Homo sapiens: one gene and its partner. The protein of the gene in region 1 purifies or fractionates together with the protein of each later gene. This does not show direct contact. Each region holds a gene or a part of one and is shown on either strand. Other genes may lie near its edges.

Evidence for each region.
Region 2: the proteins of ARHGAP5 (region 1) and DOCK3 purify together in Homo sapiens (affinity purification with western blotting; one study listed by BioGRID and IntAct). This does not show direct contact.

Annotation. Positions count from the first base shown.
Region 1 is NC_000014.9:32,090,788-32,094,606, reverse strand, and holds part of ARHGAP5 (rho GTPase-activating protein 5), read right to left. Parts: coding exon 221-3,819; intron 1-220. UniProt on the Homo sapiens protein: GTPase-activating protein for Rho family members.
Region 2 is NC_000003.12:50,673,536-50,677,868, reverse strand, and holds the start of DOCK3 (dedicator of cytokinesis protein 3), read right to left. Parts: upstream 2,943-4,333; 5' UTR 2,606-2,942; coding exon 2,569-2,605; intron 1-2,568. UniProt on the Homo sapiens protein: Potential guanine nucleotide exchange factor (GEF). GEF proteins activate some small GTPases by exchanging bound GDP for free GTP.

The DNA of each region.
Region 1 (3,819 bases):
AGAATTTTTATGCTGAAGAATATGAAATCAAACTCTACCCCAATAAAGCACAAAAATAACAAAAAATCACTTATCCCCACAGAATACTCAGAAAATTAAAAAGGGCTACTAATTATTATGTATGGAATGAATGAGACTAAATTCTAACACTGATGTCAGTATTTTAAAAAAGTAACAACAAGCATTTTTATAAACATCACTGACCTTAAGTTAACCTTACCTTTTTATCTTCTTTCACTTTGTGGGTTTTCTTCTTCATCTTCTTATCATCTAACTCCTGGTCAGAAGTGATTGCAGGATTATCAATACCACCTTTCCAAGTTTCAACAGGAGAAAGAAGTGGATCTTCTTCACTTCCACGATGTCTTCCTTTTCTTTTTGTTTTAGAAGTGGTGAAAGCCTCATCATCACTGGCATCTGAATGTGTTCTTCTATAGTATGACTTGGCTTTACTAAACAAGGTTTTAGATTTATATTTGTATTTTGAAGGCCTCCGTTCCCCATGACTTTTTGAGGTTCTATCAGAAAACCCATTTTCTTCATCTCCTTGGGTGTTATTTACAAATGAGTTTCGAATTTTAATACGATTTTGACTATCATCTGGGACAACATAAATCTCATCAGAATAGCCCTTCTGTTTGAAAATTGTATCAATGGGTTCCGCATAGTTATCTGAAGGATCCATATCTTCAGGATGTGCCAAAGGCACCCGGGAAGTCTGCTTTCTTGGATTTTTACCAATACCAGCTTCAATTGTTTTTAAAAGGTTTGGATCGAGTTTTTTCACATTTGTCTTAGGTACAACTGGTTTAGGTTTAATAGGTGGAGGCACTTTATGGTTGCGTTCATGGTCATGACAGTTTGGGGTACTATGAATAGGATACTCATTTCCTTCCAAATCTAATCTATATCTGGAACGGTCACTAGGTGTTGGAAGCAACTGTACATCATCCCCAATTGGACTATAAGGAGGTGGTGCTTCTGTGTCATCATCTGAATCAGGGTAGTTATTATAGGGAAAACAGTCTCTGGGAGATGGTAGAAAAACATCTTCACTTTGATGGGTTGATTCCCTTGTATTATCAGACAAATAAGAATTTTCTATCATATTTTTTTTCTCTAGAACATCACTAAAAAACAGAGTAAAGACCTCAGTTTGCCGATGATACTGAGATAAAGAATACAGTGCTGTAAATTTAGCAGTGATCTCAGTTGCAATGTGTTCTCCTTCAGTCATTAACTCTTTGATAGCCTCATTTTCAAAAAAATCTGCTTGGCTGTCAGTAACTGCCACCAGCTGTACAGGAATGGTGTCTTGAACTTCTGATAGAAATGCTCGAAGCATTCCCATCGAAGCTTTCCGTTTTGCAGAGTAAACTAATATATACCCATGAACTAGTTCATCTTTTCTTACTCCAATTGAAGAGTGGTATGATAATATTGTGATCTGTATTCGCCTCCTTTTTTCACCAATGATTTTATCAAGCATTAGGGAATTATTCTGTCCAGCTTGAGCAGCACTGCAAGAATGAGAATCAAGGAAGGGTGAAAGAATAAGATCCACACTAAATGGATCTCCACACATGGCGCACATGACAATTCTCAAGTCAGCTTCTGATAAGTCCTTATTGGCAGGAATTGGGCTCACCACATCCAAATTGTGTTTAACTGATTCCAATACTCCTCTGAGAGCTTGCTTTATTTGGGTTTCATTAAATTTACGAGGATATGTACCAGCAGGTACATCTACAAAAGGACATTGCAACTTGTTTGCCAACTGCTGCCCTTGGTGCCTGAGAATTGGTAGATTCTTACTAATGGAATCTCTCTGATTAGCCAGAATTAATGTAAATGGAAGATTAGCCATGTATTTATCTTTTCTGATCTGAGAAGCTTCAGTTCTTATTTTCCCAATAAATTCCCCAATAAAACTCAATGACTCAATGGAATTAAATACACAGAAGCACCCATGTGGTTTAAAGGCGGCAGTCCATAACTGACTCAAAAAGTAAGGCGATTTGGCATCAACCGGCCGAAGATCAAGTTCATAAATTTTTCCATCTAAGGCATACTCATCATCAGTGGATTGTGTCCTTATCTCATTTGCTAGTTCTTGGGCAAGGCCATCCTTCCCTAAAATAAAAAGGTTAACTTTATCTATATTGGTACTATCGTGATATAATCTTAAGCGGCCATGATCCAACTGTAAAAGACTACTAGCAAGTAACTGCTCCACTTTAATGTCTGTACAATTTTGGCCACTAAGACATGTTTCTTTAGTGGGATGATAAACAAATCCTATATGCTTAAGTAGAAGGGATTCCCTATCAGGTGCAAGTTTCTGTAAAGCTTTATATCTAGGTTCTTCACTCAGAACTGTATGAATTTCACTCATTTTATCTGAACTAGGTGTTGCATTAAGATCTAAATCATAAAAAAGTTCAGAATGCTCAAAAAGCATTTCTTGAAACTCTTCTTTGGCTTTTTCAACTATTTCTCGCTGATGCCTACCATATACCTCTTTGCTATCAGCCTCAGTGATATATTTGTAGGCTTCATCCTCCATAACAAAGCACATAACTTCCTCCCATGGCTGCCCTGGTGAAATGAATTGAATTTTTTCCAAAGTCTTTTTGAATTTTTCCTTCATTTCCACCCTCCTCTTCTCGGATATCAGATGCTGTACATGGTTCTGATAGACTTTTTCAGCTTCTAAAGTGCTCAGGAGGTCAAATGGAATCCGCCTATCATTAATTTTGTCTATATGGTCAGTTTCATCCCAAGGAGTTTTTTCTAGCACCACAAAACATAACTGGAAATCTGCTCTCTTTTCCATTAACTTCAAAGCTTCTGACCAATTCAAATGTTCAATCTCTTCTAGATTTGGCAAAAGAGTGTTAAAAGCTCTTGGTAAAGTATTTATATACTCTTCTCTCCTTTTTCTTATATGTTCCTGTTTAAGTTGTTCTATATGTTTTGAGAATGTATTTCTGGCCTTTCTTGTTCCCTCTAAGTTGATGTATTCTTCATAATCAGGATGATTTTTTAATTTATTACTAACAGTTTTCCAAGTTGCATGATAATCTCTCACAGTCTGCACAAGTTTTTCAAACTTATCTGTTGCTGTGACAACAAGTTGTCTCTGTGTTTTATAAGCATCCAAATAGGGAATAATTTTAGGCTTGCTACGAGTTTTATCCAACATTTGTACCAGTGCAGTAAAACATGTTTCAATGTTGACATTAAATCGTGCTGATGTTTCCACTACAAGAAGGTTCTTTTTATTTGAAGCAAATGCCTGAACTTCTCTAAGATAATGATCCACGCATTCATCACATTTAGTTGCTGCTATTATTACAGGTTTTTTTGATTTTGATAACTGGACAAAAAGGTTATTCACAAATTTAAGTTGATCATCAAACTTCCTATTGCATCCTTGACTTACATCAATGCATAATAAAAATCCATCTACGTTGAGCTTCCCTTCAGGCATTTGCTTCTGTTCAAAGTCTTGTTCTAAGCCTAGCTGATCAGTGCAAATGTACATTAGTTTTTCTGCTGACTGCAATTTAGATGCAGCTGCACGTTTTATATATGGTTGCAAATTCGTACTCCGATGAGGCAAGAAAGTCTGGTCATCAATGAACTCTGTTTGTTCAATGACATGAATTTTGCATTCTACTCCATCTTCACTATTTTGTATTATGTCACCCCAGTACAAAAAGTGATCATTGTTTACTACTCGTCCTCCAAAGTCAATGGTGCTAAGCACAGAAGTATGCTCTGGATAATATTCATCTGCTTTTGAGCGTACAAATC
Region 2 (4,333 bases), on another chromosome or scaffold:
ACCTCATCCTAAATGAATAAACCAAACAATTCAGTCATGTTATAACCTGTACAGAATTCCTATATTATAAAAAATTTAATAAGTATTACTACAGGATCTCAAAGCCTTATCAATGTCAAATACAAATGAACAGCTGCAGTGGAAAAAACCCTTTGTACTGCTGCAACAGGGGACTCCTTCCCTCACTAACATCAGGGCAAAAGGAGGCCCTCGAGGCCCTCCTCCACAAATTTCTCCAAATTGGTAGGAAGTAAGTGTAAGGGGTTTCCCTCCTTGCTATGTGATTATAGGTTGACAAACAAAGACACAAATCTGTGCTCCAAGTTAGTCATAAAAATCAAAGCTGAAACTCAAACATTTTCTCACAGGAAAATGATAATGGTTATATTTTCAAGCTAGCCCTCATAGCAATCAAATGATGCAGCAAAAATGCCGTTTTAATTGACTATTTTTCTCATAAGTATAATGTATAAGCTACTTTATAAAGTGGATTTTATGAAAAGTTCTAGAAGTGTAGCCCTAACATCCTTATGAAAAAAAATGTGTCCTGAGTTTTAAACAATTTACACAAAAACTTTTAGATCATAACTAAGGAAGGGACAGTGGAAGACTGTGAGATAAATAGAGAGTTGCTTGGTTTGGTAGAAAAGGCATCTAAGTTATGCTAAACCACAGCTGCTATGAAAATGTCTTCAGTGTAACTGTCTCTCTCATTTAGCAAGCATTAAGCTCTGCCCTGAGCCCAATGCTGTGGCCCTCCAAAGGGAATAACAATTTTTCTAAAGCTAAAAACACAATCCTAGGAATGCAAGAATTTCGTTGCATCTTGCTGGGAAAATCACACACCAAATCCTAGTGCTTTGAGATTCACATGTACCTATCTTGATTACCTTGCACTGGCTCTGTCTCAGAACACACTTAGTGTTATTAGTCTAAATACTAAGGGAAAAGAAGAAACTATTAAGCATTCAGCACGTTCTCATTTCACTTTCACAATCCTGTAAGATAGGTAAACATTATCCCCAATTTATACATTAATAAAATGACGTTAAATGATGTTAAATTACTTGCCCACACCACCAGTAAAGAGAAGCTAGGACTCTGAATTCCACTTTGTCCACTATTCAAGGGCTCCTCCCCCCACGCCCCCACCCCCGCCAAAATAGGGCTCCTCCCCCCTCCAAAAAAATCAATCATGGGGTGCCACTGGAGAGTTGACCACTCACATCAATTATTTGTTATTCTAGTTCAGCAGTTCTGGGAGCGAGTTATGGAGAAGATAAACCACCAACTCCTCACTTCACAGAATCAACTCAGTATTCAGGGAATACTCTAAGAGAAGGGGTAAAATGTCCCTAGAGGTGAATCCCAGCTCTTCGCATCATTTCTCAATTCCTTCTCAATAGAGACTCTAGGACCAGAGCTCCCTTTATCACCTCCATCCTAACATACCTAATTGTTTCAGAAAGTTACCTTTTAAAACAAGATCTTCTACCAGAATAGAAGACCTCTCTGCTGGTCCTCGAATTTAAATAAATTCAATTTTCACACGATAACCTGCCTGATAGCATTCCAAAACATTCGTTACCACTGCAGTTTCAAGTTATTTTGTAGTGAATTGTGAACTAAATCTTGATTAAATTGCGGTAAAGATGGGAAACAAAAATCTATGTTTAGACAGGTTTCCTATCTAAAATTTTCCATTACGAGCTTAGGAAAAACAAAACCTGTACACTCAACATTTTAAATCTGTTTCTAACTGAACAAGATGATAGGTGATGCAATGAGGCTTAACTCTATCATGTAATTGCCACAAAACACTAACATTGTAAAACATTCAATACTTTAAATTACTGAATATTCTTTTTAAAGAAGTTGAATATTGTAAGAATTATTTAGCTTCTGGAGTTTAACACTTACAACATTAAAAAAAGGTTTCTAAGAGGAATAAGGTCTCATCTGAAAACAGGGTTTAAAAAAAAAACCGTATAAACATTGATACATGTCCAAAAACATTTCCCATCGTAAGGTATTATTTCTAATACTAAAGGCAAAACAAATTAAAACAGATCAAACATTTGCAGTCAAATGTCCAAATTTTTGAACTGGGAAAATGATGTCAACGTTTTTCATCCGTTTTCTTGTAAGGTTCCAGATCAAAAATAAACAGCCATCGGGCTCATCAATTCAGGTGCGGAAACTCATTAAAATCGAGCTTTTGGAGGGGAGAAAACATATTCCCAGAATTTGGTTTATCGGGTAAAATTGCCCCGTGGCCCACACCAGAAACCTCGGGCAACTGCCCGGGCCTTGCCCACCCCTCCCGCGGGCCGCACCTGCCAAGGCCGCACCGCCAGCGCCCCCTGCCGCCCTCTCTGCACAGAGACCCGCGCCCACCCCCGCACCCGCACCCGCACCCGCACCTGCCCCCACCCCGCGCTCGCCCCGCGCCGAGGCCGCGCAGCCTGCGGGCAGTGGCGGGGGCACGAGGATGCGAATCCAGGCGGGGCCGGGAGCTGGGCGCGTCCCCCAGAACCCCCGCCACGGCCAGGCCTGAGCCTCACCTACCTACGCCGTATTTCTCCTCCTCCGTGGGGGTCCACATGGCCGTGCCGGGCGCGGCCCCGCGGGCGCGGCGACCGGGCGACAACGCGGCGGGGACGGCCGCGGGCCCGGCTGTGGCGCACCGCGAGTCGAGGCGGGGACGGTCAGGCGGCGCGGGGCAGTGGGCGGCGCATCCCTCACAGGCCGTCCGGGATGCCGCCGCCACCCCCGCCACGTCTGGACCGCGAGGCTCCGCGGGTGGCCCAGCAGCCCCTGGCGGCGCGGGCGAAGGCTCGCCACCTGTCCGTCGCCGCTGCTCCCGTGCCGCCGCTTGCTTCTTCACAGCTCCGCCGCCCGGCTCCCGGCGCCGCCGCGGCTCGGCTCGCCCCAGCGGGCTCGCAGGACGCCCGCGCATGCGCCACTCCCTGCCGCGCAGGGGCTCGCGCTGCCCGGGCTCGCGCCGTCCCGAGCCCGCGCGCGAATCCACGCGCCGCTGCTGCGCGCCAGCGGAGGGAAATCCGCGAGAAGCTATTGGACTGCCCGGCCCCGGACCGGCTTCTAGAATCGCTGGTCCGGGGCCCTCAGCTGCAGCAAACCCCGGAGGGGGCGAAGCCGGTCAGGTGGGCGACTCCCTCTACCCGGACTCCCCACTCGCTTCCGCTTCCAGTGCCTCCTGCCTGCGCCCCGAGATGGCCACAGGCCTCCTGGTCGGAGAGGGGAGATCCAGAAAAGGAGGACACGACACCATTTTCAGACCCATCCCAGTGTCACCCACAGTGCTGTCGGAAAGGTCCCCGGAGCCACCCTGTGCATTCCCAGGGCCCGCAGGATGGAGTCGCCACGAGGGAACCAGGTGGGGTGCACTCGTGCCCCTCTCTCCTGGATCCCCTGTGGGCTGAGGCCGCTGACACCTCCTGGGTTCTTGCTTCTCTGAGATGGCCTGAGTGGTGAATGTTTGGGGCCAGAACAATCAACAGCCGCCTTGCTAGTAAGGAAGAGCTTCATTGGGCCCTTCGTGTTCCTACCCAGGACACGGCATCTGCTGCTCCTGGGTGTCTGCCTCCCTTGGAGCCCTAAGAACTGGCTCCTACCGGAAACTTTCCTCCTCTCTCTCCTCCCTAAGAATCCATTCATTCTGATGCCTGTAAATGTCACCTTGTGACCCCCAAGTCAACCACTTACCAAAGAACAGGAACTGCAGGACTTCTCCTTTCCACCTACATTTGGACCACATGCTCTAATCCCAGCAGATTTGCCCATCTCTGTCACTAGCACTACTAAGTCAAAACCCTGGTGTCATCCTTCACTAGCACTCTCAGACACCACCACTCTTCAAAGCCCAGCTCAGCCCCTCACCTCCAGGAAGCCTGCCCTGACCCATAGTCTCCTTTCCTTCTTTGTCTGGAATTGGAGCTATGTTCGGTTTGTCTTATTTCCCTTATAAGACTGTCAGCTCCCAGAAGGCAAGCTCCAGGCTAAAATCAACTTTCTAAACCCTCACCACCAACCCAGCACCTGTTGTATAGTTGTTGCATGGGAAGCCAGACTAATAGAAGAATATCTTGCAATCAACAGATCTTGTTGATTCTTCGTTCAAAGTGTCATGATTGGTAACTCCTCCCAGGCCTGACTGTGCTCCCCTGGGTTATGGCCACCCCTTCCCACCTTCGGACCTTTAGGCTCCTCCTCTCACTAATCATAGCTGCCCACTCCCGCCCAGAAAAATGTCTGTTCTGTGAATGATAGAATTTCTCAATAGCCAGGTACACTTCTTTTTAGGGGTAGCAGG